2 separate regions of the Homo sapiens genome follow, and region 2 is linked to region 1. Evidence: fine-mapped expression QTL. Tissue or cell type: thyroid. Region 1 holds a variant in brackets; the other region holds the start of a gene. All regions are shown on one strand. Distances are from middle to middle.

Evidence for each region. PIP is the estimated chance that this variant, and not a neighbour inherited with it, causes the effect.
Region 2: ATXN7L1 starts here. The variant in region 1 is fine-mapped to the expression of ATXN7L1 in thyroid (GTEx, PIP above 0.99).

The regions. Positions count from the first base shown.
Region 1 is chr7:105,702,075-105,708,153 of GRCh38, forward strand. All of the region lies in intron 3 of ATXN7L1 (ataxin 7 like 1), which reads right to left. Among named protein-coding and RNA genes, the nearest start is that of EFCAB10, 120 kb to the left of the region's middle. The variant G/A (reference allele first, on the strand shown) is at 3,597.
Region 2 is chr7:105,873,683-105,879,190 of GRCh38, forward strand. ATXN7L1 (ataxin 7 like 1) reads right to left here and starts at 2,917. Exons shown (of 12, transcript NM_020725.2): 1 at 2,696-2,917; 2 at 2,130-2,198. The coding sequence starts at 2,876. RefSeq lists a silencer at 2,960-3,169.

The DNA of each region.
Region 1 (6,079 bases):
TAAGCCAGAGTCAATTCAAGTGTAAAACAATGTTAGTTTAAAGATGGGAATGATCCCTAACTCTTGCTAGTGCTTTTCTCTTTACAAAGTTCATTTGCATCCGTGGCATAACTGGTATCTCACAGAAAACTGACTAGGGAGGGAGGGCGAGCAGAAGCATCATTCTCAGTTCACAGATGAGGAATCTAAGGTGGGGCAACTTGCCCAAGGCCACCCTATGGGGACTGGTACAGACGGGATCCAAACCTAGTTTTCCTGGGTTTGTTCTCTTTATTCTGTGCCATTGCATTCTTTCTAGAAATACAGAAATCATATAATTTATCATCCCAACTAGACAGCTTTGAAAGTAAAAGGGGGTGCTAAATGGATGGGCTCCAGGGCAAGAGGTATAAATTGTGACTCTCCCAGGCAAATTAGGACTTCTGGTCACTTTAGATATAACCCAGCCCCTTACACACACACAGACCCACAACACACACACACACACACAGACACACATACACACACACACAGGGCGAATCACATCTTTTAAATAGGAAAGAGAAATGCAGCAGGGTAACAATGCCTATAAAGTGCTAGAGTATTAAAAAATAAAAATAAATAAGTAAATAAAAAGTACTTGAGGCCTGGCGTGGTGGCTCATGCCTGTAATCCCAGCACGTTGGGAGACCAAGGCAGGCGGATCACCCGAGGTCTGCAGTTTAAGACCAGCCTGACCAACACGGAGAAACCCCGTCTCTACTAAAAATACAAAAAAATTGCCGCCGGGCGCAGTGGCTCATGCCTGTAATCCCAGCACTTTGGGAGGCCGAGGCAGGCAGGTCAAAAGGTCAGGAGATCGAGACCATCCTGACTAACAGTGAAACCCCGTCTCTACTAAAAATACAAAAAATTAGCAAGGCGTGGCGGCGTGCGCCTGTAGTCCCAGCCACTTGGGAGGCTGAGGCAGGAGAATGGCGTGAACCTAGGAGGCGGAGCTTGCAGTGAGCCCAGATCTTGCCACTGCACTCCAGCCTGGGCAACAGAGCAAGACTCCGTCTCAAAAACAAACAAACAAACAAACAAAAAACCCCCAAAAAATTAGCTGGGCGTGGTGGCAGGTGCCTGTAATCCCAGCTACTCAGGAGGCTGCAGAAGGGAGAATCGCTTGAACCCAGGAGGCAGAGGTTGCGGTGAGCCGAGATCCCGTCATTCCACTCCAGCATGGGCAAGAAGAGCGAAACTCCGTCTCAAAAAAAAAAAAAAAGCACTTAAGTATAACTTGTATTTTATTGTTTGTGGAAGTTAGTCTAGGCTTTACATTTCCAGGTCATCAGCTTGCAGGCAGTAAGAATACAAAGTCTAGATTGGGCAACTGGTATTAATCAAAGTGAGCCACATTCCAAATGTGGCCAGTTTAAGTTTTTCTGTTATCCATATTTGGTCCAACATTCTGAACACAAAAAATGGGTTTTATTGTTGAAACTTGTGACTTAGTATAATCACTGCTAGAAACAGGCTTTTTACTGGTGCAATTAACGGTATTCAAGGTATGTAGCCTGGCCAAAACCCTGAGAGACACTACCCACCCTTGTATAAACAGGTATTAGAATCCAGCCAGGCCTGTCCCTTCAGGGATGGTGCTCTGGGCTGCCCTGTGTCCAGCCACCAAATCTGGATGGTTTATGAGGGGATGATGCTGCTTTGGGAAAACAGTGTAACAGTGTCCCCTCTCTAGAGGATTCTTGTAGTTGCCTAGGGCGAACCTTTCGTGTCAGGTGTGGTTGGAAAACCTCAAAGGAGAGAGGGCTGGGCCTTTGTCAAGCTTCCCAAACAAGCTGAATCAACTGTTTTGTTTCTACTTGTCAATAAACGTTTGTTTGATAAATGCCTGCATCTGTGGCAGAATTCAGTCTCATACCCACATTCATTCACATGGTATTCACAACTGCAAGGTTGTGCGGGAGAAGCTGACCCTCACCACATCTATCTTTTACAACCTTTTACGCTGGCAACTGTGTCCTACCAGAGAGAACCCAAGAGGCCTATGTGGCCAAACCACTTTAGGTTGGTCCACAACAAACATGCCACTTGGTGAATCTGAAATGGGTAGACTTCAGGAAGGGATCCCTTAGTACATTTTCCTCATCACCAGATTTTGAGCCTCAGGAAAGCAGAGACGGGGTCTGTCTTGTTCACTACTATAAGCCTCATGAAGTGCCTGCCCACAGGAAATGTGTAATTTACATTTGTCAAATGAATAAAATAAGAAAGAATTTTGTCATTTCTAGATCTGGCTTATTAACTGTAATCTGTGATTGTTCTTTATTCTGCTAATGAGAACTGATCTGCACAGATCACAACCTGTTCTTTGCCCTGATTAAGTTAGTACTTCAAAAAGCAACAAATAACAGGCTAATAGTAAAAACCACTGGGATGATACTGTTTAATTCACACAATAATGCAATGAGATTGGTATCATCACCCCCATGTTTGGATGAGGAAACCAATGTCCAGAGAGGTTTTATCTCTTTTTTTTTTTTTTTTTTTTTTTTTTTTAGACAGAGTCTTGCTCTGTTGCCCAGGCTGGAGTGCAGTGGTACGATCTGAGCTTGTTGCAACCTCTACTCACTGCAACCTCCCGCCTCCTGGGTTCAAGTGATTCTTGTGCCTCAGCCTCCCAAGTAGCTGGGACTACAGGCATGTGCCATCACACCCGGCTAATTTTTGTATTTTTAGTAGAGATGGCGTTTCACTATGTTGGCCAGGCTGGTCTCAAACTCCTAACCTCAGGTGATCTGCCCCCCTTGGCCTCCCAAAGTGCTGGTACAGTGGCATTAGCCAAGTTAGTAAAGCCAAGACTTGCACTCAGTTCTGTCAGACTCCAAACCCAAGCACACTCTCCTGTGCTGTGCTACCCAGAATTAGCAATAACTCAGTTTTGTAGAGATTATTTTTTATTTTATTTATTTATTTATTTATTTATTTTGAGACGGAGTCTTGCCTTGTCACCCAGGCTGGAGTGCAATGGTATGATCTTGGCTCACTGCAACCTCCTCCTCCTGGGTTCAAACAATTCTCCTGCCTCAGTCTCCCAAGTAGCTGGGATTTACAGGTGCGTGCCTCCACGCCTGCCTAATTATTGTATTTTTAGTAGTAATGGGGTTTCACCATGTTGGCCAGGCTAGTCTTGAACTCCCAACCTCAGGTGAACCACCTGCCTTGGCCTCCCAAAGTGCTGGGACTACAGGTGTGAGCCACCATGCCCGGCCGAGTATTTTTTATTACTTTTACTCTATTCACTTTCTGCTGCGCTATTGAACACATGCATCTTTTTGGCACTTCATCTTATTTTATCAAAAGCTTTTTTTGGGGGAAAAACTAGATGGATGTTGGAATATATAAGCCTGCCTTCCGGTTCTTTTACTTTTAATTATTTTGATTGACATATGGCCTTGAGGGATGTCTAAGGGCCTCTCCTATCTTTGAGCTGCAGAAGGATCCGTCCCCAGGAATCTGTCGCAGCTCTCCCTGTCTCCAGGGCACCACTCCGACACCCTCCCCCCATGCACCCCTGCCACTTGCCACACTAGACAACTGAGAGCCTTTTGTTTCAC[G/A]CCTCTGTGGCTTGGTGCACAGTGTTCTTTCTCTGGAATCCTGGTCCACTCGTTTGTTCTTCACCTTGGTTAACTCCTTGTTTTCTTTCAGGATCTAGCTCAAACATTAGCGCATTTGGGACACTTAGGAGATTCCCTGCTATCCTGAACCTCTGCCAGGTCTCACCTGAAGCCCTTTCTCTCTGCTCTCTGGACCCACTGAGCACACCTCCACCTTAGCACCTGGCACGTGGCTCCGTAGTAACAGATAGATTTGCCACCCTTCTTCGCATATAAAGAGCCCAAGTCAGGAACTTTTTCTTAGTACTGGTACATAGCAGGCACTCCAAGTGTGTTAGATAATAAATGAATAAATCAGGAAATAATTAGCCAATCCACAGTAAAGCAAGAGAGAAATGCAGGGATCAGTGGGCAGCAGTCTGCAGTGGTCTGAGAGCTAGCTAAACTGAATTATTTCTCTTAGCCACTGTGCTTATTTTTTAACTTTAAGAGCATCATAGTTGTTTTTGTTTTTTGTTTTTGTTTTTGTCTTTTTTTTTTTGAGATGGAGTATCGCCCTGTCGCCCAGGCTGGAGTGCAGTGGCACTATCTCAGCCCACTGCAACCTCTGCCTCCCGGGTTCAAGTGATTCTCCTGCCTCAGCCTCTGGAGTAGCTGGGATTACAGGCGTGCATCACCATGCCCAGCTAATTTTTTTGTATTTTTAGTAGAGATGGGGTTTCACCATGTTGGCCAGGCTGGTCTTGGACTCCTGACTTCAAGTGATCCGCCTGCCTTGGCCTCCCAAAGTGCTGGGATTACATAGTTGGTTTTTATGAGACAACAGACCATTTAATTCTGAGTGTTCTGCTCCTTTGCCTGTTACAGCAAAAAACACCACCACCACCACCACCAAAAAAAACAAAAACAAAAACAAAAACAACAAACCTCTGGAAAGATATTCCTTTGTGGCCAGTTCTCCATCACTATGCCAGCCACCAGCATCCCCTCTGGGGACTGGGGTGATCTGATAGCGCCCAAGGACAGGCTGCACTCACCAACTCTGTGGCTTCTAGGTCCCCGATGTAGACCAACAAATGACCTGAGCAGAGCTATAGCTCGATCCAACTGTGGGACTCTGGCCTAATGAAAAACAATTCCCAGCATAGCCTGACCCCTTCAAAATGCAGATAAAAATAATTTAGTGATTTCCTCCCACTAAACTCTTGGGCATCAACCAAGAAATCTGCAGTGTGGCTGCTCTGATGCCATTGTACAATGGCAAATAGTTAGGTTTTCTTTGTGCTTTTATCAGTGCTTATTAGCAGGAACACACCTGGCATTTTAAGAGGGTTAATTCTCCGTTGGGTGGAATTGTTCCATGCAATGCACAGCATTTAGCACTTCTACTCCGATGGATGCCAGTTACCACAACAGCCCCCAAATGAACATTTTCCAAACATCTCTAGTGGTAAGAGCCATCAGGAATACTGGGCTTCCTGGTGGAGTTAGATTTGATTAATTTTGCAGCATCTTAGAAGAAATGGAAGAGGCCACCCAACCCAGGCGGTGGGTTGAATTCTAAAGGGACAAGGTCCAGGGAGTTAGACAGCACACATGAAGCAATGAGCCAGTTGGACCAAGGCTTGTTTGTGGGAAGAAGTGGAGGTCCTGAGAGCAGAGAAGGTGCACTGGTTCCTTGAATGAAGAAGTCAAGGCAGCGAGGAAGATGGGCTCACGGAACCAAGAGATCTGAGCTTGGGTAGAGGTCAAAATGGTACAAAAAAGATGAAGAATGAGTGGGGGATGGAGGAAGGCTGGGCTATGGGCTGAACCCTGGCTGCAGTCTGAGCCTCCTCCTCACAGCCTTTGGTATGCAGGGCATACCAAAGAAGCCAAGAAAGTCATCGATTCTGGACAGCTCCAACAGCTTAAAGTTTCTAGTTAGGAACTAGCTGTCTTCTCTTGCTTGGCCTTAAAAGAGCAACAACACAGCAACAACCCTATCACCACTGTGGTCACACCCTGCGAACATGACCTCCTGCAGAGAACTTCTATGTTTCCCAAAGTGACCTAAAAGGGCATTTGTATCCCAAAGGGGGAGAGGCTCTAAAACAAGCCCAGGAGAAAAATCCACTGAAGTGCTGAGTACAGGGCATGAGTACAGAAATCATTGCCCATCACTCTGATTTAATGGCTAGAAGCTCAACAGCTCTAACAGGAGAGCAATGGGCAAAGTTGCAGTGAAGCTACTTATTCCTGTGTCTCATCTTTCTCACTTATTTTAAATTTATTTTATCTTGTTCTGTTGTTTGCAACTTTATAAGTGGCCTTAAATCCTTTTGCAACAAAGATGGGTATAAATAAATAAAGCAAAGAAATAAAATACGTGGCTGCTGTTGTCAGCACTGCCAGACTGGGCGCGAAGTGTTTTATCTCTGATCTAAGAGGAAGGACGTGCTCTGCTGAAGTGAGAAGGGAGGAAGAAGGAGGAGAAAACTCCA
Region 2 (5,508 bases), 170 kb after region 1:
TCAAGTTACACTGAACAGTGGGTGTCCTTAATGCAAATATGTATAATTAGGAGCTAAATCTTCGTACCTTTATAGGACAAAGGACCTAATAAGCGGGATGTACCACCTGTGACTTCTGAGGAAAGGAGAGCTTTTCATTTTTTCTTAAAAGAATCCGTTTCTCAGCCAGGCACGGTGGCTCATGCCTGTAATTCCAGCACTTCGGGAGGCCAAGTGGGCAGATCACGAGGTCAAGAGATCAAGACCATCCTGGCCAACATGGTGAAACCCCGTCTCTACTAAAAATACAAAAATTAACTGGGTGTGGTGGCACGTGCCTGTAGTTCCAGCTATGCAGGAGGCTGAGGCAGGAGAATCGCTTGAACCCGGGAGGCGGAGGTTGCAGTGAGCCAAGATCGTACCACTGTACTCCAGCCTGGCGACAGAGTGAGAATCCGTATCAAAAAAAAAAAAAAAAAAAAAATCTGTTTCTCATGAGGCAAAGAGAATCTGAGAACAACAGTCTTCTGAAATAGAAACAGGGACTGGGGGGAAAGGATGTGAGTTTTGTGTGTGATAGTCATAACGCATCACCCAGACCTGAGAGGTGACAATCCTGTGCTATACCATGACCTTTACTCAACTTTAATTTAAAGATTTCCACAGCCTCATCATCTTTTATGGACACGTTGCCAGTAGCCTGATAACTGGGTCTTGCAAGCACTTAGAGATCTCAAGAGTTTGTGTGTGAAGAAAAATAATCTCTAGTGATGCTTCCCACTGCCAACACACATGAACATTTAACACAAATAAGCTGCCACTTGTAAGAAGTCCACTTGACATCAATCCCTCGTGCATCCTGAAGACACCTGTCAAGATCACACTAAGATATTTAGAAGCAAACATCTTTAGAATAATGTTTTGTTCCCAAAGTGCTTAATTAGCAGAAACATTATGCTAGGGAACTGTCCTTGAATATGTACGCATTTTAACCTTCATGTTATTTTTTCTGAAGCACAAAATTTCCTCTCAGTGGATGGTCAGGAAATGATTGGGCACAGAAAACCAACCATCTGAAGTGTTGATTCATAAAATGAGTTCCATCTTTCCACGCAGGCTTCAGCTGCCTTCCAGGGTGACATCCCTTTTTATGAGGGGGACCATTCTTTGGCATCTAATGGCCTTTTCTCCATTCATTTGGGATGACCAATGCACCTATGGCCTACTTATGTCTGAACTCTTTCAATACCACCAACCTCTTCTGTCCCCTTGTGCCATCTTCCCACCCCCAATTTCAGCCAATTATGTTTATAAGACATCAGTTAGTGAATCACAATTCAAATGAATCCACCTATTTGCTTAGCAGCAAGTGGCCCCCGGAGTTGCTCCATTTGAAGCCCATAGGCCAGAGTTACATACGGCAGGCTTGCAAATGAGAACAGGATATGATTTATTTATGACGACCATATGTGTTTGATGCCCAATTGCAGCAGGTTGTGGCTTCTCTTGCATATCTTGGTCTGGGATGACCTATCTACTCAGTGTGTCCCATTTCAGGTACCGTATTTCCATGCTGGGAAAAGAGAGATGATGACTGCTGAGGGGCTGCACATACAGATGCTCCTAACCCTGCTTGCCACATAACAATCTGTGACCAAATGCAAAGTGGGCCAAATGTAACTTGCTGCAAAGGTTTGCCATGTACAATGGTTTTCAGTGGTGAGTGGAGAAGTAGCTGCTGGAATGACTGACCATGTGGGGTTCATTAAGCTGTTGTGCATTCACCCACGAGAAAGGCTGGGATGCTTGTGAAGGGAACTCCACTCTTCATTTCAGAAATTTTAACGCCCCACCATTTGGCAATGATGCTCCCAAGGAGAATGGCAGATATGCATCAGAAGGTTCAAACGTGGAGTCCAACTGAAGTGCAGTAAACTTCTGCCTTCAACAGTCTCACCCCCCTTTACCCCCCCCCCAGTTGTATTTATACTTTGAAAGAAGTTAACATGAAGCAGTAGTCACCTGGGCGTGCTCAATTTTTGACAAGCCTTAGTCACTCTGTACCCAGCAGAACAATTCACATTATATTCGAAATCCTGTGAAGATTCTGCCACACATGCTAACACTAAAATGCCAGTAGCTCCACTTACCTTCTTTATTAAGCCTCATAACCTCCCTGCTTTTTCCACCCTCTTTTCCAGCCTCTTCTAAATCTACATCTGCAGATGAAAAAGAAAAGGAAAACAGAAAATAAGGAAAAAAGGGGGGAAAAAAGCCAAAGTCAAGGGGGGAGGGAGAGTGTTTATTTGCAAACAGATCGATATAAATACTGTATATGAAATTCTTTCAAAAATTGACAATGCAACATTTTCTCCCAAGTCTGGGTTTCCATCTACCTGGCCCAGATAGGTACCCAAAAAACTATGCAAGCAGCAACAAAGTAGCCTTTTAAACGGACAACACCGTGGGGCTGCGAGCCCACCCCGCGGGCTGCCACGGGGAGCCGGGCACAGACAGACAGACAGCCCTGGCAGCCGGGCCTCTCCCTGTGCATTGATGATCTGTCTCTGTGTGTATTTATTTAGAGAGAGAGGGAGAAGCATGGAGGACACCGGGGGCCACTCTCTCTCTCACACACACACTTTTTCCCAGTGGCTCTAGGTGAATGGAAAGGTTACAGGATAATAAAAGGAGGAGGAGGTGGTGGGGTTCTTACTGTCGGAGCAGTGTAATTTGGCGGCGTCGATCCAGGAGGACCAGGGTTTGCCCAGAAACGCCTCCGGACTGGGCACTTTGCGATCCAGTGTCGCCATTGCTCTTCCTTCTTGTTGCTTTTTCCCTGTTCCTTCGGCAGCAGCAGCCGAGAGACACGGGATTCGAGAACGCTCCGACGTCATCTTCGGAACGTTCCGACATTGAGTGTTCTGAAAGGGGGAGGGAGGGAGGAAGGGCGGGATGGGAGGAGGGCGGCGGAGGAGGAGGGGAGAGGGAGCGGAGGAGGGGCGGGCGCTCGGGCTCCCGGAGCCGGCTCGGTGGGGCTCGCGCGCCCGCGGCCGCCAGGGGCAGCAGAGAGGCACCTGCAGTCCGCGCCCGCCCGCCCGCCGGGGCCGCCCGCCTGCCGGGGAGGGGCAGCGCGGACGGGCGAGCGCCGCGTGCGGGAGAGCGAAGGCTGCAGCGCGCCCGGCAGCCGGGATGCAGCGGCGCCGCCCAAGCCTGGGGCGCAGGGGTCGGGGCACACGGGGATAGGCCCGACGCGGGGCCGAAGGAAGGGTGGTCTTTCCCGCAGAGTTGCCGCTGGAGGACCGAAAGTTTTGCAGGCAGCCCTTGCTTCCAGCTTGTCGCTCTCTCCCCGCGTCCCTGTCGCCCAACGCGAGGCGCCCCCGCTGGGGTCCCGACGGCTTGGTGGGGAGGAGCCGTGAGGGGTTGCGCCCCCCACCCCCACCCGAGCCAGGGAAGGGACCCTGGTGACCTCGCCTCCCAGCCCTCACCCCCGTCACCCCTTTCTTCTCTTTCCTGGAGGACTTTGGACCATGGAGATTCTGCAGTTGTTGCTCTAGGAGCTGAAACCAGTGGGTAGATGTCGTTCTGAAACGCAGGTGAGTTTGGAGCGCTACGAGCTACCTTCCCATCTCAGGCTGCGGGGCGTGCAAAACTCAAAAGTTAGGGCCCCCGGACCCCCGGGTTCCCCGCGCGGTGCGTATCTCCGGCTCTCAGAGAACCACTGCATGGACTTTGCTCCAGGGTCAGCAGAGCGGGAGGGCGAATTTACGGCTCTTGGAAGACGACGCTAACGGGCCTAGCCCCTGAGCCGTTTCCAGCGCTCCCTGCCGTGAGACGAGGGTGGCCCGGGTTTGCGCAGGCAACCTTTGGCCAGGAATCTGATTCCTGGGAGAATTCACTTCAGGCTTAACTGCTCTAGCCAGCTAGAAAGGGAGCGCTAGATTTCCTCTGGATTTTGGACGTTGGGTGCTTTAGTTGAGATTTTCACCCTTTAAAGAAGGCTTTAAAAAGTCTTCTGTTACTTCTTTTTAACAAATCCTTTTGTTTACTAGAATTATCTAAACTATATGGACACCGCCCTCACCCCACAAGCGACATATTTTTTTTTCTCTTTCGCCAGCACCCTTTTAGCTCTCACCACTGCTGTTTCCCAAGTTGTCACAGCTGAAGCGCACTGATTGGAAGTTGCTTTGTACTGACTGAGTTCTGCCCTGGCTGAACCATCTAATAATTTCCCTGAGCTTGGCACCCTGTATCGCTAAGCCAGTGTTAGGATGGGCGATGAAGGAGGAGCTGCGGATTTGCCTTTAGTTGTGATGTTTGTGTGAGTCGGCTTGTTTGTGTCAGACTCAGATAAACTGCATTTGCCTTTGCTCTCTTTCGAAGGGCTCCTACATAGCTAAGGTGTCGCTGGGTGAAGAATTCCCATTGTAAGAATTGGTGGTGTTAACAAATATGTATTACTTGTTGACCTCTTGTTATATGCTAGACCCTGGGCTTGACATTTCCTTCCTTCCTTCCTTCCTTCCATCTGTCCATCTTAAGTCAACCAATATTGCCTGTCATGGAACAGCTGTGCCCTCCTGTCAGGAGGGAAAGATGAGTGAGACCCATCCTCACCCTCACAGAGATGCAGTCTGGTGGTCTCTGGAAGAAGGAAGTTGTGAAACTTACCGATTCCTTGGGAAAACAGGCAGGTACACAGGGACTGGCCTGTGCAGTGGGTGGGGTGGTCTCTCAGCTGTGCCAGTTCATAGAGGAACCGAAATCTAGTTAGGAGTGAACAGAAACTGCGTAACAGAAGATGGGCTCTGCTCTGCATCTTGGAAATTGCCAAAGATTTGTAATGGTAAGGTGAAGACTGGTCTTGCGGAGGGAGGGGGAATAATGGTATTAGCAGAGGCTTCAAGCTGAGTATAAACATGGTGTGTTTGGGTGTTGAGCATGGTTTGCCTGGGATGGAGAATTGTTACTGGGGGCTTGGGGGTGATGCATTTTGATACCCAGGCCTGGATCAAATTATGGAAGGCACCAAACGGCAGCCTAAAGAGTCTGGATTTTGTTTGACAATGGGGAGCTACTGAAGGGCTTTCTGTACCATAAAGATAAGTTAAAAGTGTGAGTTAGAAAGATTGGAGTACGGAGCCTGGTTAGAAAAGTAGTGCTGCAATATTCATGGTGTGAAGAGATGAAAGCCTGAACTTTGGTGGTGCTATGCAGGTAGAGAAGAGGAGACAGGTGTGAGACTGTGAAGAGAGCACCTGATCAGAGGGTGTGCTGTTGGGCTAGATTTAGAGGTGGGGAGAGAGAATGCGAGAGCTCTGAGGCATGAGTAATTAGATGCTGGAACACTTTCCCTTTCCCTTCTGCTTCCCTATTTTCCCTCTATTTATTATCTATTTTGATGTTTATTCCTGTGTTGTTGTGCATGCAAGGAAGGTGTAGGCAGCAGCTAATGTGGCCCCAAAGGTCTGTACCTCCTGGTGTTCATGCCCTTGTGTAATCCTCTTTTCTTTAGTGTGGGCTAGA